7 separate regions of the Homo sapiens genome follow, and regions 1, 2, 4, 5, 6 and 7 are each linked to region 3. Evidence: fine-mapped expression QTL. A gene starts in region 3. Each other region holds a variant in brackets. All regions are shown on one strand. Distances are from middle to middle.

Region 1 (4,000 bases), 240 kb before region 3:
TTTCGCTTTGGTGAGAATGTAGTCAGGAATGTGATTTTTCTTAGAGAACAGCTAAGCATAACAAATTAAAAAGGGCCCCAAATCTCCCTCTCATAGAGGAAGCTCTAACAATTTTAGCCTAGAAAAATTATAAGGCAGATATTACAAAGGACCATCTGAGCTATCTTAAACCAACAAATTATTGGTATTTTCGGTATTTGATATTCTTGGTACAGAGCTCATAGAATGTCTTTATTTTAAGCAACTGCAGTTTCTTGGTGAACCTAAAATAAAAATCCTTGTGTAATATATCTTGGGAAGCTGAATAACTTTATTTTCTTTTAGAATTATTTATCATCTTATCATCAACCAGTTATTTGTTGAAAACGTTTATCCAGTTATATCTGCTTTAGATTCTCGTTAATTGTGGTTTCCTTTGCATTTCAGTGTTCTAATCTTAGGCGCTTCAGGCGGAGTTGGTACTTTTGCTATACAGGTAAAACCATTTTTTAATCTTGTGAATAGGAGGATTTTGTTTGCATGAATTTATAAATTAAGATACATTATTTCTCCTTAAAAGCTGAGAGAAAGGTAGGTCTGGTAAATGTACTGTAATTTCAGCTTGTTCTGTAAGAGGAAAATATTCTTTTTTTATTAGAAAAAATTATTTTTTAGAGATGGAGTCTTGCTGTGTCACCCAGGCTGGAGTGCAGTGGCACAATCATAGCTCACTGTAAGGAAAATATTCTAATGTAGAAGGAAGCATTAAGCTTTCTAGTAGTTTAATATGAGTGGGTGTGTGGATGTCCTTGATAACAGACGTAGGAAAGCTTTTAAGAAGGAAGACCATGGGCAGTGCAGGTAGATGGAAGTTAGCAATTTAATAGGAAACAGCCAATGTCAAAAACCAATACTAGTTTCCAAGCAGAATTTTTGCAGGCTAAAAAGCCTGCAAAATGTAGAAATTGGTAAGCTGATTCTAAAATTTATATAGAAATACAGTAGCCAAAATACCGTTAAGATGGCAATACTCCCCTGAAGTGATTTATAGATTCAGTACAATCCCTATCAAAATGCAACTGCTTTTTTTTTGCTTTTCATAAATGGACAAGTTGACCCCAAAATGCATGTGGAATCACAGGGGACCCCAAATAGCCAAACAATCTTAAAAAAGAATAAAGTTGGAGGACTCACACTTGCTGATTTCAAACTTACTACAGAGCTACAGTAATCAAAACATAAGGGTGAACTTATAGATCAATGGAATAGAATTGAGCATCCAGAAATAAACCCATACCTCTGTGGTCAATTGATCCTGACAAGAATGGCAAGACCATTAAATGGAGAAAATAATAGTTCCTTCAACAAATACTGCTGGAACAACTAGATATCCACATGCAAAAGAATGAAGTTGAGCCCCTACCTCACATCATATTAAAAAAAGAAAAACAACCCTCAAGGTCAGGCATGGTGGTTCACACCTATTATCCCTACACTTTGGGAGGCAAAGGTGGGTGGATCACTTGAGGTCGGGAGTTCAAGAACAGCCTGGCCAACATGGTGAAACCCTGTCTCTACTAAAAATACAAAAATTAGTTGGACATGGTGGCATGTGTCTGTAATTCCAGTTACTCAGGAGGCTGAGGCAGGAGAATTGCTTGAACCTGGAAGGCGGAGGTTTCAGTAAGCCTAGATCA[C/T]GCCACTGCACTCCAGCCTGGGTGATGAGTGCAACTCTGTCTCAAAAAACAAAAACAAAAACAAAAAACTCAAAATGGATCAAAGATCTAAACATAAGAGCTAAAACTGTAAAACTCTTAGAAGAGTAGGCAGGGAAAGGGAAAAAAAGAGTCTTGGAAGGAAACATAAGACAAAATCTTCATGATTGTAGATTTGGCAACAGATTTTTAGATATGACACCCAAAGCACAAGCAACCAAAGAAAAAAATTCATCAAAATTAAAAAAACTTTTGTATGTCAAAGGGCACTATCAAGAAAATGAAAAGACAACCCACAGAATGGAAGAAAATATTTCCATATCATTTTCTGGTAAGAGTCTAGTATCCAGAATATATAAAGAACTCTTATAACTCAACAACAAAAAGACAGCACAGTATTTAATTAGCAAAGAACTTGAATTGACATTTCTCCGAAGAATATATACAAGTGGCCAGTAAGTCCATGTAAGGATGGTCAATATCTTTATTTATTAGAGAAATGCAAATCCAAACCACAGTGAGATACTGTGTCTTACAATAAAAAGCAAACACAGAAAATAAAAAATGTTAGCAAAGATGTAAATAAATTAGAACACTCATACATTGCTGGTGGGAAGTTAAAATGGTGCAGACATTGTGGGAGAGTTTCTTGGGTCCTCAAAATGTTAAACATAGAATTACCATATGACCCAGCAATTCCATTCTTAGGTATATACCCAAGAGAAATGAAAACATATATTTAAGCCTAATCTTATTCATGAATATTCATAGCAGTATTATTCATAATAGTGAAAAAAAGTGGAAATAACTATCAGTTGATGAATGGATAAACAAAATGTGGTATAGACATATAATGGAATATTATATATCTATATTATATATCAGCCATAAAAAGGAATAAAATATTGATGATGATACAGCATGGATGAATCTTCAAAACATGCTAAGTGAGAAAAATCCAGAAACAAAAGGTCCTACATATTGTATGATTCCATTTATATCGTATGTTTAGAATAGGCAAATCCACAGAGACAGAAAGCAGATTAGTGGTTGTCAGGGGCTGGGGGTAGATGGAGAAGGGAGTGGGGAATGACTACGTAATGAGTGTGAGGCTTATTCTTGGGGCACTTAAAATATTCTGGAATTAGTGGTGATGGTTGCACAACATTGTGAGTGTACTAGAGACTACTGTATACTTTAAATACTTTAAAATTGTGAAAATGGTGATATATATGAATTTTACCTCAAATAAAACAAAACAAACCAAAAGTTCCCCAAGCCTCCAGAAACATGATGGGGCCCAGTGACTGCTCCTGTTGTGGTCAGATGTGTAACTGACTGGCTCCTAGAAGAGGGAGCTTGATTAAGACTCTCTCAGGATGAGGGGAGAGATTCTTTTCCCCAGTAGGGGCCAGCGAGTAGCCTCAGAGGCTCTGCCACATTACTTTCCAGGAGGGAGGTTTGGGTGTTATAGACCACCCCAGACCCAGCTTAGACTTTTTGAGAACCCAGATGGTGCTGGAGGCTTCCTGTCTGTCTGCTGACTGAACTAGGTGAAGGAGGCGAGGATTCCTGGGATGCACACTTTAACTTCTTTTAACTCATCATTTGATAATCAGAATCCAATCCAGAGGCTCAGTAAATATGAGTTGAATACATAAATAAATAGAAGAAAGGAAAAGAGGGAGAGAGGCAAAAAGAAAAGAGAAATATCATACACAGTTGGTTAGAGTATAAATTGATACAGCCACTTAAGAAAACCATTTGGCATCTACTAAATGTCAATATAAATTGTAAAATTTCTAAAAAAAAAAAAAAGGACAGCACAAGAATTCCTATTTTAGGATTATAACCTATAGATAGATATACAAGTATGTTTACCAAAAGATATGTACCAGAATTTCAGAGCAGGGCTATTCCTGTTAAAATTCCCCAACTAGAAAAACCCAAATGTCCATCAACAGTAAAATGAGTAAGTAAATTGTGGTATATTCTTACATTGGAATATTATGCAGTCATGAAAAAACTATAATTGCACACAGTGAAGTGGATGAATACCACAACCGAGTGTTGAGTAAAAGAAATCAGATGCAAAAGTACATCCTATATCGTTCCATTTAATGACATTCAAGAACAAGTGAAACTAAGCAGTGGTGTTTAAGGGTGGTGTCTACTTAGTAAAACTTCTTAAAAAAAAAAAAAAGCAAAAAGGGTTACACTAAAGGTCCAGTTAGTAGTTACTTTTTAAGGGAGTTGAGGAGGTTTTAATTGGGAGGCTTAGGGACACAGGTGGTATTCTAATTCTT
Region 2 (4,096 bases), 180 kb before region 3:
AGCATCATCTTCCACCCTGAAGGATGGCAAGTGTAAGTTGGCAACTTCCTTTGGCTGCATTTATGTGTGACAGAGGTTTAATATGAGAAGTCACATAAGCAATATCTTCATAGAGATGGAGTGGGAATAACATTAAGTACATATATATGTGTATATGTTTAAATAATTACATATACATACATACAAAAATACATATATATTTTTACCTTTGGATCTGTAGGGAATTCAACTTTACGGCCACCCTGAAAAAAACAACATAGTAAGAAAAATAGTTTTTCACTGATACATTACCATTTTATATTAGCCATAGCAGTTTACAGTAAAACATTGAATTTCAGTGTGACTATGTTCTGGTTTGTTTTAACTTACGTGAGATAGTTCTAAAATTACCAACAATACAGATGAAGACACGAGGAAGGCAGGCTAGAACGGAGCCTCGCACAAGCAGTCTATAAGCTGATCTGCGTTGTAGGAGTGTTTTTTGACCTAGCAAGTTTTTTTAACTTGGAAAATTTATCATAAAAATCCATACTTCTCTTGAAAAAGCAGTTCCAAGAGCTGACATCTCTGGACCCAGATTCTCCCAGGCCACTGTCTTCGGCTTCTGCATTTAACGATCCTGCCCTCAGTTCATCCTTCAGCTGGGCACAGGCCCGGGGTTGCCGTCTCTACCATTCCCTTCGGTTTAACTCTCAGCCATTTGTATTTGCTGCCTGGCCCCTGAAGGTATTTGATTTTGCAACCAGGGCTTACGAAACTATTATGTGTTGAAGTTCACATAATAAGATCTGGGGGACTCATGGAATAATTAGATAAACTGTTAAATAAAATTTAAAACATCCCAAAGGATGAGTCTATGAGGGGTTGTTATAAAATAGAAAGCTTTTTAAAAACAAAAAAACTCACTAAAATCAGAGAAATGGTATTACATTAAAAAGATATTGCACAAAAATATTAAATAGTTCAAGAGTTTAAATCAGCAATGGGAAAGTTGGATTTTTTTAAAATTAATATATCTTTAATAGCTTTTTAAAAAAAAGTACCACCAAGGATGCTCAAAGGCACCAAATGAACTATAATTATAAAAGAATGTGTTGGTTTCCTTAACTTTTATGAAAAAACAAGCAAAAAAAAAAAGGAAAAAGGAATGTGGCTGATATTATCAGCAAACCAGAGATTATACAACTAAGCACATGACCTTTTCAAAAGTAATCCTGTTTGAACACCATAGACTTTGGAGACTTTTCATCATCATTACAAACTGCTCCTAAAACCTGGATGAATTCTTTCATACATTCACAAAACTAACAAAACTTTGTTCTTTGAAAGTGAGTTTAATTTTAGAAACAAAAGCCCAAATCATTTGCATTAAGACCAGCAAACATACAGATAATTAAACCAAATACTTTGGAAGGATGGGTAAAATTAACATTAAAAAAATTGTCTTCCTAACTTTCTAATTTGTCTCAAACTGTCTCAGAAGACAACTGCGAAGTGCAGCTTCAAAAACATGTTTGTAATGGGAGCCTCATCTCACTGTGGGTATTTAGGGAACAACTTCC[A/G]TGCTGCAGCACACACTGCGCTCAACACTGGGGACAAGACAGATGCGGCCTGCTTCCTCCCAAAGCTGACAGTCTAGCGGAAGAAACAAAGAACAAAGCAAGACACTGGGACAAGGGAGAGGAAGCACAAAGCTTCCACAGCAGATACTCAGGAGGACAACACTCATCTGGTCCAGCCCCAGAGACCCCCAAGACACCACCCACTCGTGTCACGGCAGCCGAGCCGGTCCTCAGCGTGCCCTGCTCTCTCTCAGGCTGCACCCTAGCTCACACAGTGCATTCACCGACAGCTCCATTTAAAAAATCATCCTGCTAATTTTTTAAGACTGAATTTAATTTAGCATGAAGCTTTCCTAATTATCCCTTTTCTGTCACATCACCCACAACTTGGAATTGTATGTATCTTTGTCCTGTTTTTCCACCAATGTTTAATTCTTCACTTTCCTCACTTGTTAAACCTACACTGCGCTGAAGCTTTGCGCACCCATCTGCAGCTCTGCAGGGCTGAGAATGCCTTAAAGACAAAGGACATAGTCTTACCTGCCTTTTTTTTTTTTTTTTTAATCTATAGCATCTAGCAAGTTATTCTTTCCATGATTTCTATTGAGCAATAGGTCCAATCTACTACAAATTTGTTTCTTAAAAGTCAGCTTTATTGCTTCAAAGTCACACCCTGTGAATTACCACGTCAAGCTGACAAAGAATCACCACAAGGACATTTGGATTTCATTTTTACCATTTTCAGAGGCCGCATGGATCCAATGTACGCTTCTTCTGTATCCCAGAAGGACAAGTCAGGGTATTCACCAGGTTCCAGGATGAAAGGAACACCCTGAAATCCAGGTTCTTCATAAATCAGCCACCTAAATAGCCACCATGGAAGGAAAGAAAGGGAGCCGACTCATCATTTGTTTCAGTTTTTCCTTCTGTCTGGTACCCAGGATGAGAGGAAAAGAACAGGAGAGGATACGGACCTACATAATGAATGGTTGGACTCAGGTGTTAGAATCACACTAGACTCAAGGAAAAATAAAGCCATTATATGCCCCTATTCTTGATCTTTTACTTTTCTCCTTGGCTGGCTTTGTCCCCTTATTTTAATTTGTATTATTAATTGCTCCAAAGTTCCATCTAATCATTTGTCATGGTGCCAAACATTAGTAACAGCTAACATCTCCCTAGAGCTTACAAGGAATGCCACTGAGAACTTCATCTAATCCTCACAACCATGCTATGAGGAAGAGAAGCTATTGTCCCCATTTTATAGATAAAGTTAAGTAAGTTGCCCAAGGCCACACAGCTATAAGTATGAAAGGCTGGAATGATTCAAGCCGATTCCAGAACCAGGTTCCTAATCAATTTTTTTTTTTTTTGACGGAGTCTTGTTCTGTCACCCAGGCTGGAGTACAGTGGCTTGCTCTCAGCTCACTGCAACCTCTGCCTCCTGGTTCAAGTGATTCTACTGCCTCAGCCTTCCAAGTAGCTGGGAGTACAGGCACACACCACCACATCCGACTAAGTTTTGCATTTTTTTTTTAGTAGAGGGGGTCTCACCATATTGGCCAGGCTGGTCTCAAACTCCTGGCCTCAGGTGATCCGCCCGCCTTGGCCTCCCAAAGGTGCTGGGATTACAGGTGTGAGCCACCATGCCCAGCCCTAATCATTTTTGTGATGGCAATTTTTCTCATTGCAGGAAGTGCATTGAACACAGTTTACTCTTTTCACAGTTACTCAGGATCATCACTGTGAGCATTATTTAATGCACAGTGGTGTCCTCAGGGGCTCTGAAGTTCTGTGGGGCTGCTTGTTCCCAGGCCACAAAGCTTTTTGAGTTCTTGGTTCTGATTGTTATGGCTTTTCAATACCACACCCTTCTATCAGCTTGTCAGCTGTCACTTCTGCTTCAGTTGGGGAACCAGCAGCCCCACCCTCCTCTAATGTGCCAGAAATCAGGAAACCAGAAAACCATGCCTACTAGCCCTGTCTCTAAACTTTACAAGGTCTTCTTGTAAACATCTTCGTTCCTGGGAAGGGTTCTGAGAAGGTGAGGATGCTGAAGAAGTGACTTTTCTATAAGAGAGGGGTTAATGTACCTGCTTCATAAACAAACATAGACTTCTTAGTGATCACTTACACTCATCAATTCGGTTAGTTTTGCTAAAATGTTTTAGCCGTGGTACTCCACCATGTTGTGTTCCCCAGAACACCATGCCAAGAAGAGAGTGGCTGTAAATGAAATCTTTTACCAACAAAACGGGTCTGACCCCTCCCTCTTTGCTTTTTTCTTCTTCCCAATTTTGGCCCAAGGCACATTTTTGGCGGTGGTTTTTGTGAAGATTCCGCTGGATAAACTGGTAACTTCTCTAGACTCTCTAATTATACAGAGATTTACAACCAGGCTCCTACTGATGATTTGACAACACACACATGAAAGAATGTTGGGAGGCCAGGTGTGGGATATGGGTAGGAGGTCAGAACTACAGTGTTAGAAGTCAGGATGATGGTTCCTGGGGAAGAGGGCGTGAGGACGCATG
Region 3 (4,096 bases):
TAGCTGGGACTACAGGCGCGCGCCACCATGCCCGGCTAATTTTTGTATTTTTAGTAGAGACGGGGTTTCACCGTGTTAGCCAGGATGGTCTCGATCTCCTGACCTCGTGATCCGCCCGTCTCGGCCTCCCAAAGTGCTGGGATTACAGGCGTGAGCCACCGCGCCCGGCCTCCTATTTTAAATTTTATACTAAAATGTATTTACATTTGAATAAATTACCTATAGCTGTGTATTATTATGTTTTGATAGACAGTAAATGATAAGACTAGATCTTAAAAGGAAAACCACGATGGAAATGTTTAAAATATTTACTGAGGTAATAGAAAAGAACTTCAATGTTGGGTACATTAAATACTGTATTTTGTTAGAAAGTATAATCTATAATTAGGCACAGTAAACGTTTGAATAGGTAATATATTTCTACTACAACTGATTACCAATGTGGATGATAAAATATGAGAGAAAAATAAAATGACTTCTTTCTTAGGTTTCCTACCCTTACCCACTCACACCTAGACCTCCCCGCTGCAACCACTTGCGCTTCTCAGGAAGTGCCACGCTCTTCTAAGTGCTGGTGATGTGCACAGTGCAGCCCCTGCCTGGAACTCGCTGCTCCTCCCTGTTTCTGCCTAAGCCACTTCACCTATCCTCCTCCAGGAAGCCTCCCTGATCCCCTCCTGTGTGCTGGCATCTATCATTGCATTTTTTGGTATCCACAAGAGACTAACAATTCTTTGATGACACAATTATTCCTGTCTCTCATTGTTTTTTATATCGCAGTACATGGCACTTAGCTAAGGTACTCAATACAATAAGTGAATGAAAATAGATCGTAAAATTGACTTTTTTTACAAATAAAAGGAGAGGCCGGGCGCGGTGGCTCATGCCTGTAATCCCAGCACTTTGGGAGGCCGAGGCGGGCGGATCATGAGGTCAGGAGATCGAGACCATCCTGTCTAACACGGTGAAACCCCGTTTCTACTAAAAATACAAAAAATTAGCCGGGCGTGGTGGCGGGCGCCTGTGGTCCCAGCTACTCGGGGGCTGAGGCAGGAGAATGGCGTGAACCCGGGAGGTGGAGCTTGCAGTGAGCCGGGATTGGGCCAGTGCACTCCAGCCTGGGTGACAGAGCAAGACTCCGTCTCAGAAAAAAAAAAAAAAAAAGAAAGAAAGAAATAAAAGGAAAACCATGTCTAAAATGCAAATTTTGCACAATTTTATTCTGGCCCTCATAGGGTGTATTTTAAAAACACATTTGGAAGGATTTACTGGACATTGTCAATTGTCCATCACTATAAATATTTCACACCTCTGAGCCATGTAAATACGCTGTTACTTCAAATTGATTATTATTCAACGAATGCATAAACTCTGATGCTATAGTTGAATAATTATACATATAGAATAAAACCACTTCAAAACCATGATAAAAATCAAAAAGCACAATGGTAACTACAGTTTTGATAACTAGGTGCTCTCTAGCTCTGCCACTGGCTCCAATGGGGAGAAGCCATTTATCCTTTGGTCTCAGTTCCTCCACCCATGAAATGGGGGTAACCATTCCTGCCACTTCCTCCTCCCTTCGTATGTTGCGAGGAGAATGGGGGTATAACATCTGTAAGAGCACAGATCTTACAGATATTCACAATAAAGAGCTTTACAATAAAGACACTAGCTCAAAAGCAGTGCCTAACCCCAAAGCAGAGTTCCCGCCATCATTTAGGACGGTAACAACCCTCACTCCCCGCCGCTCTGGTTAGCAGGCTGATGCGGGAGGCTCCTGCATGAAAACTTTGCAGTCATACTAAAGGCCACATGCGTGGGCACAAGTTCCTCTCGCCGGTGCTTGGTCTGAACCAAAAGCCGCGAGGAACCTCGTCAACCCCAGCGGCTACGATCGCTCCCCTCCGGACCCGGGTACCCTCCTGCGGACTGAAACAGACCCCGGGGCTTTCCCCTCCTCCAAGTGGGGTCAGGAGTCCAAGGGCTAGCGCAGCAGGAGAAGGAGGAGGAGGAGGAGGTGGGACTGGAGGGCTCGGGCGAGGAGCTCACCTGGCCTCTCCGGCAGGCGCCGGGAGCGGGTGCGGAACGAACACCCCACAGTCAGGCGGCGCCGGCTGCTGCTTCTTTTTGGAGCGCCAGAGGTGGAAGGTGGTGTGCTTCTTAGGGGGCCTGCACGGGCTGGGCTCCCCGGGGTCGCCCTGGGCTGGCGGGGACAGCGGCATCGTCTTGTCCTCCTCCCGCTCCGACTGCCGGGACGCGGTCCTCTCTGCCGCCCGGGCCCTATGGAAGAACACACCTGAGCGCCAGCTCGCCCGCCTTTCTCAGCGCGCCGTGGGACCCCGCCCCCTCGTCGCGGATGCGGGGGGACGGCCGCGGGTTGCAGAACCAGCACCCAGCGCAGCGCGAGCAGCACTGCAGCCCGAGCTGTTGGGGCGGAGGCGGGGACCCAGCCGCGGAAGAGCGCCCCCGCGCGGCGCGGGCGGCAAGGGGCGCTAGCCCAGGTGAGGCGCTCGCGCCGGGAGCCCCAGGTGAGGCAGACACGCCCCGGCTCCCCACCCCGGGGGCGCGCGGCGGCCGTGGGACAGCGACACCTACTGGATGCTCTGGGCACCGCGACTCCCGACACTGCATCCCAGGCTCTAAGATGGGACCCAGAGCCGGGTCGGGCTTCCACAGCGCCTGGGGTGCAGCGGCCATTGTCGCCTGCGGAGTTGTTGGCCGCTCTTGGCCTGTGACAGGCTGGCAGGGTGAGTCGCTGCTTAGCCACGAGCCCCGCCTGGAGAAGGATGGGAGAGGCACATCCCGGGGCTGGGCCGCCCAGCAATTAGGACTCTTCCACTCTGATCTCTGGGTGGCTTGGGCAATGTCATGTGCTGGTGGCTTCTGTTCCTGTTCGTGAACACGGGTGGCAACTCCGCCAACTCGTCTCCTCTCTCAAGAGTCTGAATAATTAATTTGTACTCACATCTCATAAAACACAAAAGGATTAAAAAAATTAAAAACGCCAGAAGGGAATTAGGCATATTCCCCAATTCCCCAAGAGCTTAATAGATCCCTCGCAGTAAATTAAATGCCAGTCCCACAAGGTATTTACATCATCTGCATTACTGTTGATGACTTTCTTGTCTTAACTTCACAGTCGTGGCTAAATAGCAAAGGAAATTAATACTTAAGCAAAGTAAGTAAACGAACAATTATTTTGGGCATCATTAGAGCAAAGAAAGTGCAAGAACTAAGCACTACTTAAAAATTCAATGCAGTACAAGATCCTCTTTCACGGTAATGTCTTTATTTTCCTCTTTGAAAACACAACTCATTCATTCGTTTATTCACTCATTCAAGGAACATTCATTTTTATTTGTTTTTATTTACATTTTTATCAAGATGTAATTTATAGACAGTAAAATGCACAAATCATAAGGGTAAAACTCAAATTTTTACATATTTATGTGGTTGGGGTGTGAAAAGTTTTTTAATGGAGAGTTGACATTGTCCTAGAAAATTCTTCCGTATGTGGCTTTTAAATGTATGATTATAGGCCAGGAGCGGTGGCTCACGCCTGTAATCCCAGCACTTTGGGAAGCCGAGGCAGGCAGATCACTTGAAGTCAGGAGTTTGAGACCAGCCTGGCCAACATGGTGAAACCCCTTCTCTACTAAAAATACAAAAAAAAAATTAGCTGGGCGTGGTGGTGGAGGTGCGCCTGTAATCCCAGGTACTCGGGAGGCCGAGACATGAGAATCGCTTGAACCCAGGAGGCAGAGGTTGCAGTGAGCCGAGATGGCGCCACTGCACTCCAGCCTGAGCAACAGGATGAGACTATGTCTCAAATAATAATAATAGGTAAATATATATGATTATAAAAATATAGAATACTTTCAAAACTTTAAAAATCTCCCTACTGTCCTCTTCCAGTACATTACCCCTCCCACCTGTAAAAGTTAACCATTATTTCATCCTCTTTTGCTGGAGATTAATTTGACCTTTTCTGGAATTTCATTTTAGTGGAAAATCACAATATGTACTCTGTTTCTGGTTTGCTTTGCTCAATATTAGTCGGTGAAAATCATCTATATTGTTGCTTATATTGTAG
Region 4 (4,096 bases), 190 kb before region 3:
GTTAATCACCAAGGCCTATTGATTTGGTCTATTGATTTCCTTCCAAAATTTCTCGCACACTCCTCTATCCTCATTTCTAATACCTCTGCACTGGGCCAGGAGTCAAAATACTATATTGACTTAGACAAGTCACTTAGCCTCTCTGGTATCAACATTATTCATAAAATGGTGATTTGCCATGCTCCCCTAGAAGTTTGTGGGCCTTTTTTTTTTTTTTCCTTTTTTTCTTTTCTTTTGGTGGCGGGGGGACAGAATCTCGCTCTGTCACACAGGCTGGAGTGCAGTGGCATGATCTCGGCTCACTGCAACCTCTGCCTCCTGGGTTCAAGCAATTCTTCTGCCTCATCCTCCTGAGTAGCTGGGACTACAGGTGCATGCCACCACACCTGGCTAATTTTTGTATTTTTAGTAGAGACGGGGTTTCACCATATTGGCCAGACTGGTCTCGAAATCCTGACCTGGTGATCTGCCCACCTCGGCCTCCCAAAGTGCTGGGATTACAGGTGTGAGTCACCGTGCCTGGCCCTGTTGTTGTTGTTTTTAACCCAACAAATGCCTTTTGAGGATTATGTGTCAGGTACTTTTCTATTGCTGGGGATACAGCAGAGAACCAAAGTCCCTGCTCTCCTGAAGTTAATACTCTAGTGAGCTGAGACAGGTAATTTTAAACATGCACAGGACTGGAGGTAATAAATGAAGCAGGCAGGGGATAACGAGGAGTGGGGATGTGGTAGCAGTATGTCCAACAAACTAGGAAGCTTTACTATCCAACTATGTATTTGCCTTTTTTGTTTTTTCCTGAGACAGTCTTGCTCTGTTGCCCAGGCTAGAGTGCAGTGCTATGATCTCAACTTACTGCAACCTCTGCCTCCTGGGTTCACGCAATTCTCCTGCCTCAGCCTCCCAAGTAGCTGGGATTACAGGTGTGTCACCATGCCCGGCTAATTTTTGTATTTTTAGTAAAGACAGGGTTTTGCCATGATGGCCAGGCTGGTCTCGATCTCCTGACCTCAAGTGATCTGCCTGCCTTGGCTTCCCTAAGTGTTGGGATTACAGGCAGGAGCCACTGCACCCGGCCTCCATCTGTGTATTTGAATGCAAAGTCAGTGCTTTTTTGCTGTGCAATACTAAAGGACAGGATAGCATTATTTCAACCATAAAGAACCACGTGATTAAAGGCACTATTACTACTATTATTAAGAGACTTAAATCCTCAACACCTCTTGCACAGATTGCTCCAAGGCTTTCCTGACCGAGTTTCCCTGACCTTGGGCTCTCCCCTCTCCATGAAGCTTTTGTACAAGGATTGTTTCAGCATGAAACAATTGAGCCCATTGCCTTTGCCCTGGGTCTTGTGTTTCCTGTGGAAGCCATCTAAACTCAGTGTGCTCAGCTTTGCTTCTCCTCCCAGTACAAAGCCCTCCCAGCAAGCCGGACTGGTATGCTCCCTGATTCGCGTGTCCACCAGCTCCACTCCAGCGTGTACTTTCTACCTTCCTGTTAATGCAGAGTGCCGATCCTGTCCTTTGAACAATCCA[C/A]CTTGGGAGGTACCTTGGATTAACTAGAGCCCAACTCTCCCTTTCTAGATGATGGGAAGACATACAGAGTAAAGAACCTGCTCTGAATTCCATTACACAATGAGATGATCTTCAGCTTCTCCAACCAACCTGAAGCCCGTGTCCTCTGGCGTCTGGTACTCAGATATCACGAAGCACGCCATTGGACTAAGATGGTGGTTTCGCATAGTGCCAAGCACCTAACAGGCATCACTATATACTTGCTGATGTGTGAATTCTGTTTTACTCCAGTGATTCAGCTCTGCCAGGCCTTTGTTTCACTTACCTGCCTCCTGAAACTCTGCAAGACTTGGTAGAAAATGAATCATCAATTTGACTTGTTGTTTCTTCAAAACTTTGACTGTGACCTTGAAACTGTGGTTCTGAAAACAAGTGAATCTTTGAAAAAGTAAACAGAAACACATAAAATTATTTTCCTAAACACATTAACTAATTTAGCCTTTGAAATGATGACCTAAACATGACCTGCTGACTTTTGTTACAGTAAACTGGTACGAATTTTAGAAATCCTTTAATTTTCCATGTCTACATTCATGATCAATTAGAAACATGTTAGCTGCGCCATTCGTGACTATTTATTTAATTCAGAGACATCAAAGTAAAATGCAACAACAAAGGTAACTTTCTATAGAACACCCTGTTGTGAAGCTGTGAGGTATTTTAAAGCTTTATTGTGGTCAGAAATCATTGTTCATCAGTTCTGACATTAACGACAAACAGTATTTTGGAAAGACATAGTGTAGTTTCCTTCCTTCTCAATGGAAGACACTTGCTGACTTATCGGAATCCTGTGAATGCCAATAAAGGAGGCTATAGTGGTGTTTGTTCCTCTATAATTATGGCTCTGTGAACACTTCCATTAAAAGGCCGAAATAACAAATGTACACCCCAGTTGATGTTAAGAATCAGCATTCAGAAAGCTTGAGTGAGACCATAAAAAATGTCTAGTGTCGACACAGCAAATATGAAAATTCATTTTACCATCACAATAACTAGATGCTATTGTTTGAAATATTAATCTCAATGTATTAATATAAACTGAGTCAATGTAATGATATAAAATTCAGCTTTATACAATAAGCATTTTATAAGAATTATTTAGACATGGGTCAGTACTGTCAATTAACCATTAAAGTAAACTTAAATCTTATTTTTTAAATACAATTATGCTTTCAGGCATAAAAATGAGTAAAACTAACAAAATGTCCCAAATGTCTGATTTTTTTTTTTTTTTTTTTTTTTTTTTTTTTGAGACAGAGTCTCTGTCACTCAGGCTGGAGTGCAGTGGTGCGATCTCGGCTCACTCCAACATCTGCCTCTTGGGGTTCAAGCAATTCTCCTGCCTCAGCTTCCTGAGTAGCTGAGCTTATAGACACAAGCCACCACACCCAGCTAATTTTTGTCTTTTTAGTAAAGACGGGGTTTCCCCATGTTGGTCAGGCTGGTCTTGAACTCCTGAGCTCAAGTGATCCACCTGCCTTGACCTCCCAAAGTGCTGGGATTACAGGCGTGAGCCACCACACCCGGCCCCAAATGTCTGACATTTGAAACATAAGTTCAGCTTTTCAATGGAAGGCCCTTTATATATTAATATAAAAGAATATTTTTAAAGTTACCTGATTTCGTCTCCTTGGGCCAGTGAAAGAATCCTAAAAATTTTTAAAGGAAGGAGAAAAGGAAATGAATAGAACAAACACATTGAAAAAGTTTTTTTCTTCTAGATTATTAGCAATTACTGCTAAAAATAAACTCAGAATATTTTCCATAGCAATTACTATTACATGAACCAGGAACACACATTAAGGAAATCCAGAATTCAGTTAAATATTCTCATACAAAAATATAACTCCTTACCAAACATATAGGTTGAACAGAAGAGATCTTACAATTTTTGCCTCCCCAGTCCTCAAAACTGGTATAAAATCCTTTATCCAGTATATACTGTTCTCCTGTGAAGTCAGGATTTTCATAGGCTACCCATCTAAGAAACAAAAGCAATCACTTGTTGGAGTTCATATTTTACATATAAAACGATCACATATTTGGATATCTATGTATCATACAGAAACTTTCATTTGTTTTGCCAATTGAAATTTTAATTTTTCTGATTCTCCATTAACCTTTAGAAGCAGATGGGTTTGTCTATAGGACAAATCAGAATGGTAAGCCAGCAGAGAAGAGGGAACATTTATACACTGCTGGTGGGAATGTAAATTAGTTTAGCTGCTGTGGAAAGCAGTTTGAAGATTTCTCAAAGAACTAAAGATAGAACTAGTATTCAACCCAGCAATCCCATTACTGGGATATACCCAGGGGAAAACGAATTATTCTACCAAAAAGATACTTGCACGTGTCTTGTTTACTGCCACACTATTCACAATATCAAGATGTGGAATCAACCTAGGTGTTCATTGATCAATGGTGGATTGGATAGAGAAAATGTGGTACATATAAACCATGGAATACTATACAGCCATAAAAAAGAATGAAATCAAGTCCTTTGCAGCAACTTGGATGCA
Region 5 (4,096 bases), 140 kb before region 3:
AAAAAATCTTTTTTCTGTCATTTCAACATAATGTAACACATACCTCTCTACTTACACCTCAATGGTTGTGGTTTTTTTTTTTTTTTTTTTCTAATGCTGTCACTTCAGGCCAAACAATAATATCATCCTGTTGGGTACAATCAAAGGTATACTATTGGGTGAAAGAATAGTGACAGACTTTTTAACTTCCAGATTAACCTGTGTCCTGAAAAAGAGGTGTCACTGAATACAAAAGCCATCAATTATAAAAGTTAATTTATAATTTATAATTATAATTTCATTCTCCCAAAAAGCTTCTTTTAAAAAGCAGACTCCCAGTTTCGGGTTGGTATTGTCTTTAAGTCATTTATACTTTGACAGAGACAAAGTGAAACCTAATTGTTTCAAGCCATCGACACATGATCAATCAGAAAGGAAGATAAAAGATAAGATCATGGAATGTCTGAATTGTAGGATCATTTACTCATTCATTCCACTGATAATTATTGAGTGTCTACGTTGTGCCAGAATTTTCTCCGCACCTTAAAGAGGCAACCTGTGGCCTGTAGAATCGAATTATTTTTTCTAAGACATAAGTCAGGCTTTCTAAAAGGTAGCTCAGTATTTTTTCTTGTTAGAAATTATAATGTATCATTAGAAAAATAAGACTTTACTAGAATGATTAATGTGTCACTTTTATGAAGGCATGGCTTACATGCTTTCTCCTAGGCCATGCAGTACAGCAATGGATGTGATAGCATAAACAGCCAATGAGCCCTCTCTTGTGATGGAGCTCTGTCTTTAGAATCCAGGTAATTGTAGATAGAGTGTGCTGGATCTTTCCGTAGGCTCACCCTCCCTCAGCCTTGTCTGCGCCCCAGGCTCCCAGTTATGATGGAAGGTAGAAACTGACTTTCTTGTCCTTAGGATTTGGTTAGGTTCAGCCAGTGGGAGGCCCTGATTTCCCCCCTAATCTCTCCATCTCTTAGTTGGGCTCTGGGTTGGGTGTGGCTGGGTGTGACCAGGGCTTCTGCCAGGCAGCCCACTTCCGCCGCTGTTCTCTCTCCCCATATTCCCGAGCCGCTTTCCCCTCTTGCTCCTTCAGGCCTAAGATGGGAAAGGACCTCACCAGGTGCCAGATGGGAAGGCTTCATTAGCTATTGCTTGAGGTAGAATGAAGTTTTGTGGGGCATGAGGCATATGTTATTTTGAGAGTTTTCTTTAAGACAAAGAACACAAAATTCTGGCTTATAGATTTTAAGGAGAGGGCCTTGGAAGAGGCCATGTGAAAGAAGAACCCTGAAGCCTAAGGTTTTTTTTAGCCCTTCTTGGCTTCCTTAAAACCTCGCCCACACTTTGTAAATAGTCCTTCACTACTTTCCTTAATTACACAACTTGAGTGTGCTATATGTTTCCTGTGCTGGGATCCTGACTAATTCTACTGTGTGCCTAATTATGACTAACAAGTACCCCAGAAGGTTTCTCTACCTGTACTTTGAATAGTCTCCCCAACATTCTCTTTTTCTCACAAAGCTATCCGGCTGAATTAATTTGCTTTACAGTTGAGATGTATTATCCTAATTCGGCGATTTTTTTTCTTATGCATAATGTGTAATTAAAAGGAGATAGAGTAGTTTGAAATTTATAGCAAAAGTATTTCTTATTCTACCTCCTGGATTATATGCATATCCTGATTAACATAATCAAATTACTGACAAGTTAGTTCCTAACTAAAATTTAGCCAAACTGGAAAATGGAAATGTGTTCCTTGTGAAGTCATCAAAT[C/T]AGTTCCTTTTTATTAACTTGTAACCCAGAAAGTACATTCCTTATGCAATTTAAAAAGAATGACTTGTGCAATAATTCATGTCAAAGATCAAGAATGGTTACTTTAAAGCACTTAAAAGCCACTGGTGAGTCTCAGAATCTAAGTACTAAAGAACCAAGGACTAAACTTCAGTTGGGTCATCCATGTATAAATGATATGATGCAGGAGATGGTGATTAAGTTGGGGGAAAGAGGGTGAAGCGGCCCTTGGAGACAACTAACACAGCCTGCCTGCCCCGACCAGGCACAGCTACAGCCAAGTCAGAGGCCCTGGGGCTGACTGGGACCCAGAAGAGAAATGAGAGCTGGAGAAGAGGAACAGACAAGCCTCTCCAACACAGCACGGACTCTAGCTAGGCTGGCTCTGAGACTTCTAGTGACCTTGAGACCTCATAACTTCAGGTCAGTTTAGCCATGTTTGTAAGTGTGGATTTAATAGTGGATTTATTTCTAGAAAATGGAACAATCTTTATCTTTCCAATTAATATACACTGCCCAGAAATGTCTTAGTTTCCTGTAGTTTCTAGTGAGAATTGTTGACTTTCTACCAACACTTTGCAAATTAAGAAGTAGATTTCACACTTCTATGATCAGAACTCAGGAATACTACTAAATGGGATCAAATCACTTATTCTCTCAAAAGTTGCACATCTATCATACAGGGTACTGAGAAATTCATGTGAAATGATACATGTGAACATCTTTTGAAAAGCACAAAGTAGCCTATGACAGTGATGGCTGGCTTTATTAACAGTGCGATATTTTGCTGATGTTTTGCTCAAGTTAAAATTATAGAAACTAAGTAAGTAACACAATGAATTTATGGTTCTCAACTGGTGAGAAGGAGATGAAAATAACAGCTTTATCAGATGTAGTTTCTAACAGAGCTAATTTGTCTGCAGAACTTGGCATATCATTGCTCATGAGCACTCATCTTTAATGTGTCATGGCTAGAATAAAGAAAACAATATAAGCCTACTCTTTTTTTAATCTCTTTTTTGCAGCTCATAAGGTATGGAGGATATGCAAACTATGCAGGGTGAACACTTTTGAATCACCCTATGTAAAACAGCACCCTCACTTTCTATGATCTATTCTCCTTTATTTTTCTTCATAGCACTTAACATTACCTGAACCATATTGCATATATATTTGTATATTTCTTTATTGCTGTGTCTGCTTACAGAACATAAGCTTCGTGAGGAACAAGAACGTTATTTTGTTCACCTGTGTCCCTACCTCTTCATCAATGCTTGGTACCAATAGGCACTTAAATATTTACCAAATGTACATATTTTCCAGAAATCCTTTATCCTCCAGCCTATCAACAATCAAGAGTCAGACAACAGTGTATCATGGAATGGACAGTGGTTTGGGGCAATCACCTATCACCGAACCTGAGTAAGCAACTTTCAGATAGAAACAAAGGCCTGTCTCTAGCCTTATTCTCTTTCTCAAATGACTCCCCAAAATCTAGTTTCTAAAATATTCCTCCTCTGGATTATTTTAAGGATAAACTGAAATGTTTGTAAAATGCCCAATACAATCTCTGGGGAAGAGAAGGGAAATGGAAAAGAAAACCATGAAATAAATACATATTTGACCCAAAAGCACAGGCAATAAAAGCACAAAGTAGACAAATGGGATTGTATCAAACTAAAAAGCTTCTGCACAGGAAGGGAAACAAAAGAGTAAAGAGAAAATCTATAGATTGGGAGAAAATATGTGCAAATCATACATTGGATAAGGGATTAATATCCAAAATATACAAGGAATTCAGACATCTCAACAGCAAAAACAATCTGATTTAAAAAATGGAAAAAGGATCTGAACTGGCATTTCATAAAAGAAGACATGCAAATAGCCAAGAGGTTTTTTTTTTTGTTTTTTTTTTTAGTGCTCAACATCACTGTTCATCAGGGAAATGAAAATGAAAATTATAATGAACTATCACTTCACACCTGTTAGAATGGCTGTGATCAAAAAGGTGAAAGATAAGTGTTGATGAGGATGTGGAGAATGGGAATTCTTATACACTGTTGGTGGGAATATAAATTAGTATAGCCATTATGGAAAATAGTGTGGAGGTTCCTCAATAAAACAAAAATAGAACTGCCAGCAATCCTGCTTCTGGGTACATACCCAAAAGAAATGAAATCAGTATGTTGAAGAGATATCTGGCCCCCTGTGTTCATTGCAGCATTATTCACAATAGCCAAGATATGGAATCAACCTAAGTGTCCACCAGTGGATGAATGGATAAAGCAAATGGGGTATATATGCACAGTGGACT
Region 6 (4,000 bases), 250 kb before region 3:
AGGCTATTATCACAAAATACCATAAACTGGTAGCTTAAAAACAAGAGAAATTTATTTCTCACAGTTGTGGAGGCTGGGAAGCCTGAGATCAAGGTGACATCAGGTTTTGTGTCTGGTGAGGACCAACTTTCTGGTTCTTTAACAGTGCTTTCTCGCTTGTCCTCATATTCTGGAAGGGGTGAGGATATCTCTGGGGTCTCTCTCTCTTATAAGAGCACAAATCCCATTCATGAGGGTTCCGCTTGCATGACCTAATCACCCCACCTCCTAATACCATCACCCTGGGGGTTAGGATTTCAACATACGAATTTTGGTGGGACACAAACATTACAAACATTCAGACCATAGCACTTGGTACTTGCTGCTCTCAGAAATTTCGGTTTACTGAAATTACCACACATGGGTTATAATAATGGCCTACCTCTTTTAACTGCTTATTTGTGAGAGTCACATGAGAGATGTGAGCACCTTAAAATACTGTAAAAATACTTTTAATGAAGAAATTCTATAATGAGATTTTATTGTACCTAAACTCAGAAGTTCCAGTGTCCAAAGTGGATTTTCCATTTGACTATTCATTGTGATTGATGGAGCATATTTTGGCTTCAATATGCTAAGCAATAACTGTTCTTTTTCTGTTAGCTATTAGCTATTGGCATTAAGGCATGCCTTAGTCTGCACAAAGCACATCAGTATTTGTTATCAAAGATGAATCATCTTTTTTTTCTAATCAGTTAATTAAAAAAAAACAAAATTAACAATGACAAAAACACCTATCAGCACCTTGGAAGATTTTATAGGATTTCTTTATAACAAACAGCTTATTTGAAATTAGGACAAATCTTTCTAAGGGTTCAATGATGTTTACCTTTTTCCCCCTTTGTTCTGTAGTTACTTTTCTGCAGCAGCTGAGTATCAGTGAACCAAGGAAATAGTTTATTCTTGATGTCATATAATACTGTCATTTTGTCCACACATTGATATCATTAGAAAATGTCAAGTGAGGCCAGGCGCGGCGGCTCATGCCTGTAATCCCAGCACTTTGGGAGGCCGAGGTGGGTGGATCAAGAGGTCAGGAGATCGAGACTATCCTGGCCAACATGGTGAAACCCCGTCGCTACTAAAAATACAAAAATTAGCTGGACGTGTTGGCACACACATGTAGTTCAAGCTACTCGGGAGCCTGAGGCAGGAGGATCATTTGAACCACAGAGTTGGAGGTTGTAGTGAGCTGAGATTGCGCAACGGTACTCCAGCCTGGTGACAGAGCAAGACTCCATCTCAAAACAAAAAAAAAGAAAAAGAAAATGTCAAGTGAAAATTATTTTCTTTTTATCAGCCCATCTATAGTTTCTTCATGATTTGTTCAGTAGGAACACATAGATAACTTAGGGCTCTCAAGATAAGTAGAAATTTTTTTAAAAAGTTGTTACAACCGGATATTTTTTGAATATGTTAAGATTTGATGGTTTTATTTATTGGTAGTGTCATTGGTGCACTTGAATATTTCATGCTCTGCCTGAAATTCATGTCTTGCCGGGAAAGTTGTACTTCATTCTGTTTGACAGAAGTATTAAAAGGTGTTAGGTGTAGTGTTGCGTGCCTGTAGTCCCAGCTACTCGGGAGGCTGAGGCAGGAGGATTGCTTGAACACGGGAGGCGGAGGTTACAGTGAGCTGAGATCATGCCACTGCACTCCATCCTGGGCAACAGAGTTAGGAATTGAACTATTCCTCCTCCACAAAATAAATTTCACTTTTAAATTGTGTATACTTGCAACTCAATGAAGTGAATTTAGGAATACTTTTTTTTTGATATTAGGTTTTATGGCAGTAAAATTTTGTCATGTAAGTGTAAATTAGGTGTCTGATTAATTCTGATATAGAATTATAGAATTAGGCCCAGAGTTAAAAACATTGGGTTTATTCCCTACCGATATGCTTATATTAAAATTAAAATGACAGCCTTCTTCTTTCAAATGCATTCTAAGGCCTTTTCTTCACCCCACCACCACCTGTTTCTTCCCACTCCCCAAGCCCATTACCCTTTTGGACTTTAAGTTTTCATTTGCACCTGACTGGGTTGTATTGTTAGGGGGGTAAGGGGAAGTAGAAAGAAACCCCAGCTGTTTTCTTGCATAAACAAAGTATGGGGTTGAGGAGGCAAGGAGAGTGAGAGTGGAGGCTCTGGCTTGGTCAGTGTGATGGAAATGAATCTTCCTTTGCTTCAGGTCTATTTTCCAGGGAGTCCTGGGTGGGGGGGTGGGGGC[T/G]GTGGGCACTTGAAAGAATAGCAGAAACCTCACTCCTGGAAATTTGTGTTTTATACAATAGCTTTCTAAGTGACTAGGTTAACTATCTCGTGAGGTTACAAGTCATTTACTCTTCAATGGACTGTAATCTAGCTTCTAGCCTTGCCTTTCAATTGCATCTGCCCTCACTGGGGTCGTAGCTAACTTAAGTGACTTAAGTTGCCAAGCCCAAAGACATTTTTCAGTTCTTATTTTAATTTGATCTCTCTGAAGTAGCTGGCATTGTTGAACACTTCCTAAATACTTACTTTTCGTATGGTTTCAGGGACATTAAGACTTTTAAGTTTTCTTTTTTTGTTGTTGACCATTTCTTGTCATTTTTAGAAGCCCCCACTTCTTCCTCCAGCCCTTTAAATGTGCTGTTTTCCCAGTATTCCACTCTATTCTTCCTTTTTGTTTCCCAGGGTTATCTCATCTACTCCCAGCTTCTACTTATAGTTTGGTAACTTACAGATCTGTATTTCTAACTCTGTCCTCTTACTGAGTTCCAGTCAGATGTTCTCTTTATATCTCAAACTCAACTTGAGCAAAACAACACTTACCAACTACCACCCCAACTCTTCCTCTGTAATCCTAATGTCAGTTAATTGTGGTTTACCCTAAGTCAAAACCTGACATTGTTCATAAACCCTGCTCTTTCACCTTCCTCAGCACTACTCATTATTGTTCGTGTCATGTAAAATATAAGATTGTTGCCAAATTTGGAACAATGTCTTCCAAGTTCCTTTTATATGCCAGCTATAAGATTTGTGAACCCAAAATATCTGAGACAGGTCTCAGTCAATTTAGAAAGTTTATTTTGGCAAGGTTAAGGACACGCCTGTGACACAGCCTCCGGATGACATGCACCCAAGGTGGTCAGGGTGCAACTTGCTTTTATATATTTTTGGAAGACAATACATCCATCAATACACATAAGATTTACATTGGTCTGATCTTGAAGGGTGAGACCTCTTGAAGAGGGGTGGGCTTCCAAGTGATAGGTAGATTTAAAAATTTTCCGATTGGCAGTTGGTTGAAAGATTTATTATAAGTGAAATGGAATGTCTGGGTTAAGATAAGGGGTTGTAGAGACCTAGGTTTTGTCATGCAGATGAAGCCTCCAAGTAGCCAGCTTTAGAGAGAATAGACTGTAAATGTTTCCTATCAGATTCAAGTTCTGTGTTGATGTTAATGCTGCAGGGGTATAATGAGGCCTGCAACCTCCTCTCTCATCATGAGCAGAACTAGATTTTCAGGGAACTCTGGAATGTCCTTGGCCAAGAAGAGGAGTCCATTCAGATGGCTGGGGCCTTAGAATTTTATTTTTGGTTTACAGATTTCAAGGCATTTCACGTTTTCTTGTGTAGTGAATAAGCCTAAAATACTGTTGTATTTTAATGAACAATCCTGATTAGTTTGTTGTTAACCTCTTCCATATAGTGTTGTCTTGTAAATTCTTACATTTTTTTAATTGGAGGAATTTTCCACAGACTAGCTTCTGGCTTTGTACATTTCAAACCTTGTTTAACTTTCTTTCTCCTTCACTACTCACATGACCCTGTGCTGGGTGCAGTGATACACAGCTTTAAGAAAATGTCATGTGGCTTAGGTGAGTTGACTTAATGAGAGGTAGGAAGAAATTCCTGGAAGGCATTTCTTAAACTAGGACAGCTAGGGATAACTTAACTTTACACAGAAGTGACTACGAACC
Region 7 (4,096 bases), 170 kb before region 3:
AAAAAAAAAAAAAAAAAAAAAAAAAAAGTTAGTGGCTTGGGAAACAAAGATGGGGTATTTTAGAGATCTTTAAAAAGAGACTTAAAAGAGACAGAACAATCAAACGCATTTATGTGAACCTTGATTGGATCCTGATTTGAAAATGCAAATCTATAAGAGACATTCCTGAAGCAATTGGGAAAATTTGGTGATGGACTATTGAACAGATATTATCATGGACACTTTGTGAATTTTCTCAAGTGTAATAATGATACTTATGCAGGGGAATACCATTAGAAAGAGAGTCAGGCTGAATCCTATGTGGAATGAAGGGTCATGATATCTCCAATGTACATTGAAGTGCTCAGAAAAATAACACAAATATGGTAAAATGATAACAATTATTGGGTCAAAGTGAATGGTACATTGGTGTTCACTGAACTATTCTTCCTACTTTTCTGTATGTTTGAAAACTTTTATAATAAAAAATTGGGCTCTGATATGGTATATTCCACAATGAAATATACAGTGACTATTACACAGCAATGAAAAAAATACATAGAGATGTACCCATCAATATGAGTAATCTTAGGAGTGTGGTTACATGTGTAACCACGGTGGGCAGCAATGTTGGTAATGGTCTAGGTTGTAAGTTGGATGGTGGGTCCACGGGGGATTGTTTTATTATTGGGCTTCATAGTTCACATATATACATATATTATTCTGTATATGTCAAATATTACACAGTACAAATGATCAAATAATGTTTGTCAATTAAAAAAGAAGTCCCTTGACTTTAGAACACCTGCATTCTAGTACACATTCTGCTAACAGCTAACCCTAGTCTGGAGAAAGTGACCAAAGCTTGTCTTCCTCAGTCAAATGATGGTGTTGGGCCAGATCATCTTTATACTCCCTTTGAAGTTCTAAACTTCTTTGCTTTTGTTCGTCATAAATATACCACCCCCCACTTCCACCCCTACACACACCCCGCCCCCAAAAAACCCAATATGCTTTCACCTCTGGGAGGATGGGTGCCAGGATTAGCCAGCTGCTTAAAAGAAAGATTTAAAAACAAATTACTCTCAACAGAATCTGAAAGGCAAGTTTAGTTAGAAATCACTCATTTCCTCAAACAAGAATTTGACCAGACAAGTAACACCCTTATTTTGTGTATGAGTAGAAGAGCTTAATCTAGAGTGAATGGGCCCTGGAATAAATCACCTAATGGATTCTTAAGGAGTTCCCTCTACAGCAAAGACTTCTTATCCCAGTTCAGGGGAACCAGTGCATCAACAGAAGCAAAATGAGCTTCAGTACTTACTATCAGTGACATCTTCTCAACCCCTTGAGACTTTCCTTTGAGATCTATAAAAGCACTAATGACCTGGTGTCTAAGCTCACCAACCAAGTTCAACGAGCCCAAACTTTGAATTAACATCTGAGGCAGTGTTCAACAGAAATGAACAGCCAGAAAAGAAGATGCTCACCATGACACAAACCTGTCATAAATTGTAAGCTGTGACAGGCTGGTAACTACCACCCAGGAGGCAAAGCTAAACTTACTGCAAAGGTAAGAAATATCATTTAAGGTAGATTAATGTGCTTCAACATAGCCAAGCCTGAGTCATGGCACCTTCCAGACACTGAGATTAAAATATGATAACAGATGCCTTTTTCATTCTTTTCTAAGGAAAGTGGTGTTTCTCAACCTGACACCAATTCTTTAAAAAAAAGTGTATAGACTTCTTTCATGTAAAAAAATTAAAGGCAGCAAGAGATGAAGGCATTTTCTTTTGCTTAGATTCCCACTTTTCTTCCCAGTCTCTAAATACAAAAGTGCCTTCTCTTCCCTTAACTACACCCACTCCCCTTTGGGACTGTGTCCTGTGCCTGGTTTAAATACATTCTCTTTGCCAGTGACTCCTAAATTTATGCCTCCAGCCTCTCCCCTGAACTCCAGCCTCACATAGTCACCTTCTTGCCCACTTACTTGAATTTGCAGTTGGCATCTCAGCCTTAACCTGTCCAAAACTGAGCTC[C/T]TGAATCTCACTCTCTCTCCTATCCTGCTCCTCCAAGTCTTTTTCGTCTCAATAAATGTTGGGGTTCCAAACCCTGGGCATGTCTTGGCCCCTCATACCCCACACACAATCTGTCAGAAATGCTGTTAGTTCTACCTTCAAAATGCATCCAAGATCTGACCATTTCCCACCACCACCATCGCACGTCTAAGCCACCATCTCTTCTTGGCTGTATGATTGCAAGTGCATCCTACGTGGTTTCTTGGCTTCCACCTTTGCCTCTTTACAGACTATTTTCTATACGAACAGACAGGCTGATCCTTCTATTAATAACACAAGTTAGATAAAAATTCGCCAATGATTCTCCATGCCACGTAGAGTAAATCTAAATCCTCCTCCCCAAGGCGTGAAAGGCCAGATGTGACCTGAGCCCTGTCTTATCCCTATCCTCCTACTTCACTCAGCTTCAGCCGCCTTGGCCTCTTAGCTATTGCCCAAGCATGCCCAGAAGGGCTTTTGCAAATGGTGTGCTTCCTCTCTGGGACAGGCTCCCTGCCCCTCTTCCCTCAGCTAGCTCCAGGGCAGACTCCCTCACTTCCTGCCGGTCCCTCCTTAAAATGTCACCAGAGTCCTTTACTAGCTACCCTATCTAAAATAGCAACATGCCTGCCCCTCTGTAATTTATGTTTCTTGTAGCCTTTGCCATCTGACACATTATATATGTATTTGTGTTGTTTATTCCTGCTAGACTGACAGCTCCAGGAGAATGGGGACATCATTTTATGTCTTCACTGCTGTATTCCCAGTGACTAGAAAAGCACCTGGCACATGGTAGATGCTTGATTAACAGATTTACTGAATATATTTAATACATCTCATAGACACTCTTTTGGGTTTATATTTGTTAAAGTCCCAATTTCTTGTCATATTTAGACAGGGTATGCAGAGGAAATAAAAGCCTTTCCTAATTTCTACTTCTAAACTAACCACCTTTAAAAATTTCAGAGCCTTTCAAGGACTACGGGGTACCAAATGATATAACTCAAAATGTACACAAAAAACAGTACATTTATTTAAAGAAGATATACAAATGGCCAAGAGGTATATGAAAAAATGTTCAACATCACTCAAGATCAGGGAAATGCAAATCAAAACCACAATGAGATACCACCTCACTCCAGTTAGAAAGGCTATTATCAAAAAGACACAATATAACAAGTATTGGTGAGGATGTGGAGCAAAGGGAACTCTTCCACACTATTGGTGGGAATATAAATTAGCACAGCCATTATGGAAAACAGTATAGAGGCTCCTCAAAAAATTAAAAATAGAACTCCTGTGTGATCTTGCAATCTCACTACTGAGTATATATCCAAAGGAAATGAAATCAAGTATGTCAAAGGATACCCGCACTTGCATGTTTCTTGCAGTGCTATTTGTAATAGCCAAGATACAGAATCAGCCTGAGTGTCCATCAACAGATGAATGAATAAAGAAAATGTGGTAAAAATATATAATAGAATAAGTTCTGGTGTTCTATTCCACAGTAGGGTAACTATGATTAACAATAATATATTTTATATTTCAAAATAGCTAGAAGAGAGGATTCTGAATGATCTTACCACAAAGAAATAATACGTGTTTGAGGTGATGGATTTGCTAACTTCCCTGATTTGATCATTATGCAATGTATACAGGTATCAAAACCTCACATTGTACCCCATAAATATGTGCAATTATTATGTGTCAATTAAAAATAATTTAAAAAGCAGTAAAATGTATACTATCCTTGGAAAATAACTTTATACATCAAGAGGAGATATTTAAATTAATATTGTTCTCTACACCCCAAATTCTGCCCTAGTAACTACACCTTTGTATATTGACGAACCATCACTATAGTCCTCCCTTGTTATTTTCTCACTCTTCTGGGAGAGGAAGGTTGTTTTCTGAGACGGGCTGCCATAGGGAAAGAATACCATCGGGCTTCTGGGGTGCTGGTAATGTTCCAGTTCTTGGCTCAAGTGGTGTCTACTTGGGTGCTCACTTTATTTGTTTAAGTGTACATTTACCTTCTGTGAACTTTTTTCTAGGTG

The links. PIP is the estimated chance that this variant, and not a neighbour inherited with it, causes the effect.
Region 1: its variant is fine-mapped to the expression of CRYBG1 in tibial nerve (GTEx, PIP above 0.99).
Region 2: its variant is fine-mapped to the expression of CRYBG1 in whole blood (TOPMed, PIP above 0.99).
Region 4: its variant is fine-mapped to the expression of CRYBG1 in blood mononuclear cells (TOPMed, PIP 0.94).
Region 5: its variant is fine-mapped to the expression of CRYBG1 in lung (TOPMed, PIP 0.97).
Region 6: its variant is fine-mapped to the expression of CRYBG1 in whole blood (INTERVAL, PIP above 0.99).
Region 7: its variant is fine-mapped to the expression of CRYBG1 in whole blood (INTERVAL, PIP above 0.99).

The regions. Positions count from the first base shown.
Region 1 is chr6:106,599,349-106,603,348 of GRCh38, reverse strand. RTN4IP1 (reticulon 4 interacting protein 1) reads left to right here. Exons shown (of 9, transcript NM_032730.5): 5 at 427-475. Among named protein-coding and RNA genes, the nearest start is that of RTN4IP1, 28 kb to the left of the region's middle. The variant C/T (reference allele first, on the strand shown) is at 1,677.
Region 2 is chr6:106,537,732-106,541,827 of GRCh38, reverse strand. CRYBG1 (crystallin beta-gamma domain containing 1) reads right to left here. Exons shown (of 22, transcript NM_001371242.2): 9 at 2,299-2,425; 10 at 207-242. Among named protein-coding and RNA genes, the nearest start is that of RTN4IP1, 90 kb to the left of the region's middle. The variant A/G (reference allele first, on the strand shown) is at 1,563.
Region 3 is chr6:106,359,038-106,363,133 of GRCh38, reverse strand. It overlaps CRYBG1 (crystallin beta-gamma domain containing 1), which reads right to left and starts at 2,417. Exons shown (of 22, transcript NM_001371242.2): 1 at 2,053-2,417. The coding sequence starts at 2,225. RefSeq lists silencers at 2,307-2,386, 2,407-2,616 and an enhancer at 1,545-2,411.
Region 4 is chr6:106,551,314-106,555,409 of GRCh38, reverse strand. CRYBG1 (crystallin beta-gamma domain containing 1) reads right to left here. Exons shown (of 22, transcript NM_001371242.2): 14 at 3,432-3,558; 15 at 3,194-3,226; 16 at 1,843-1,955. Among named protein-coding and RNA genes, the nearest start is that of RTN4IP1, 76 kb to the left of the region's middle. The variant C/A (reference allele first, on the strand shown) is at 1,539.
Region 5 is chr6:106,500,024-106,504,119 of GRCh38, reverse strand. All of the region lies in intron 2 of CRYBG1 (crystallin beta-gamma domain containing 1), which reads right to left. LOC101927405 (a long non-coding RNA gene) reads left to right here and starts at 1,899. Exons shown (of 3, transcript XR_245566.4): 1 at 1,899-2,205; 2 at 3,106-3,204. The variant C/T (reference allele first, on the strand shown) is at 1,765.
Region 6 is chr6:106,613,221-106,617,220 of GRCh38, reverse strand. All of the region lies in intron 4 of RTN4IP1 (reticulon 4 interacting protein 1), which reads left to right. Among named protein-coding and RNA genes, the nearest start is that of RTN4IP1, 14 kb to the left of the region's middle. RefSeq lists enhancers at 2,281-2,787, 3,295-3,802 and a silencer at 3,333-3,627. The variant T/G (reference allele first, on the strand shown) is at 2,269.
Region 7 is chr6:106,531,689-106,535,784 of GRCh38, reverse strand. All of the region lies in intron 8 of CRYBG1 (crystallin beta-gamma domain containing 1), which reads right to left. Among named protein-coding and RNA genes, the nearest start is that of RTN4IP1, 96 kb to the left of the region's middle. The variant C/T (reference allele first, on the strand shown) is at 2,022.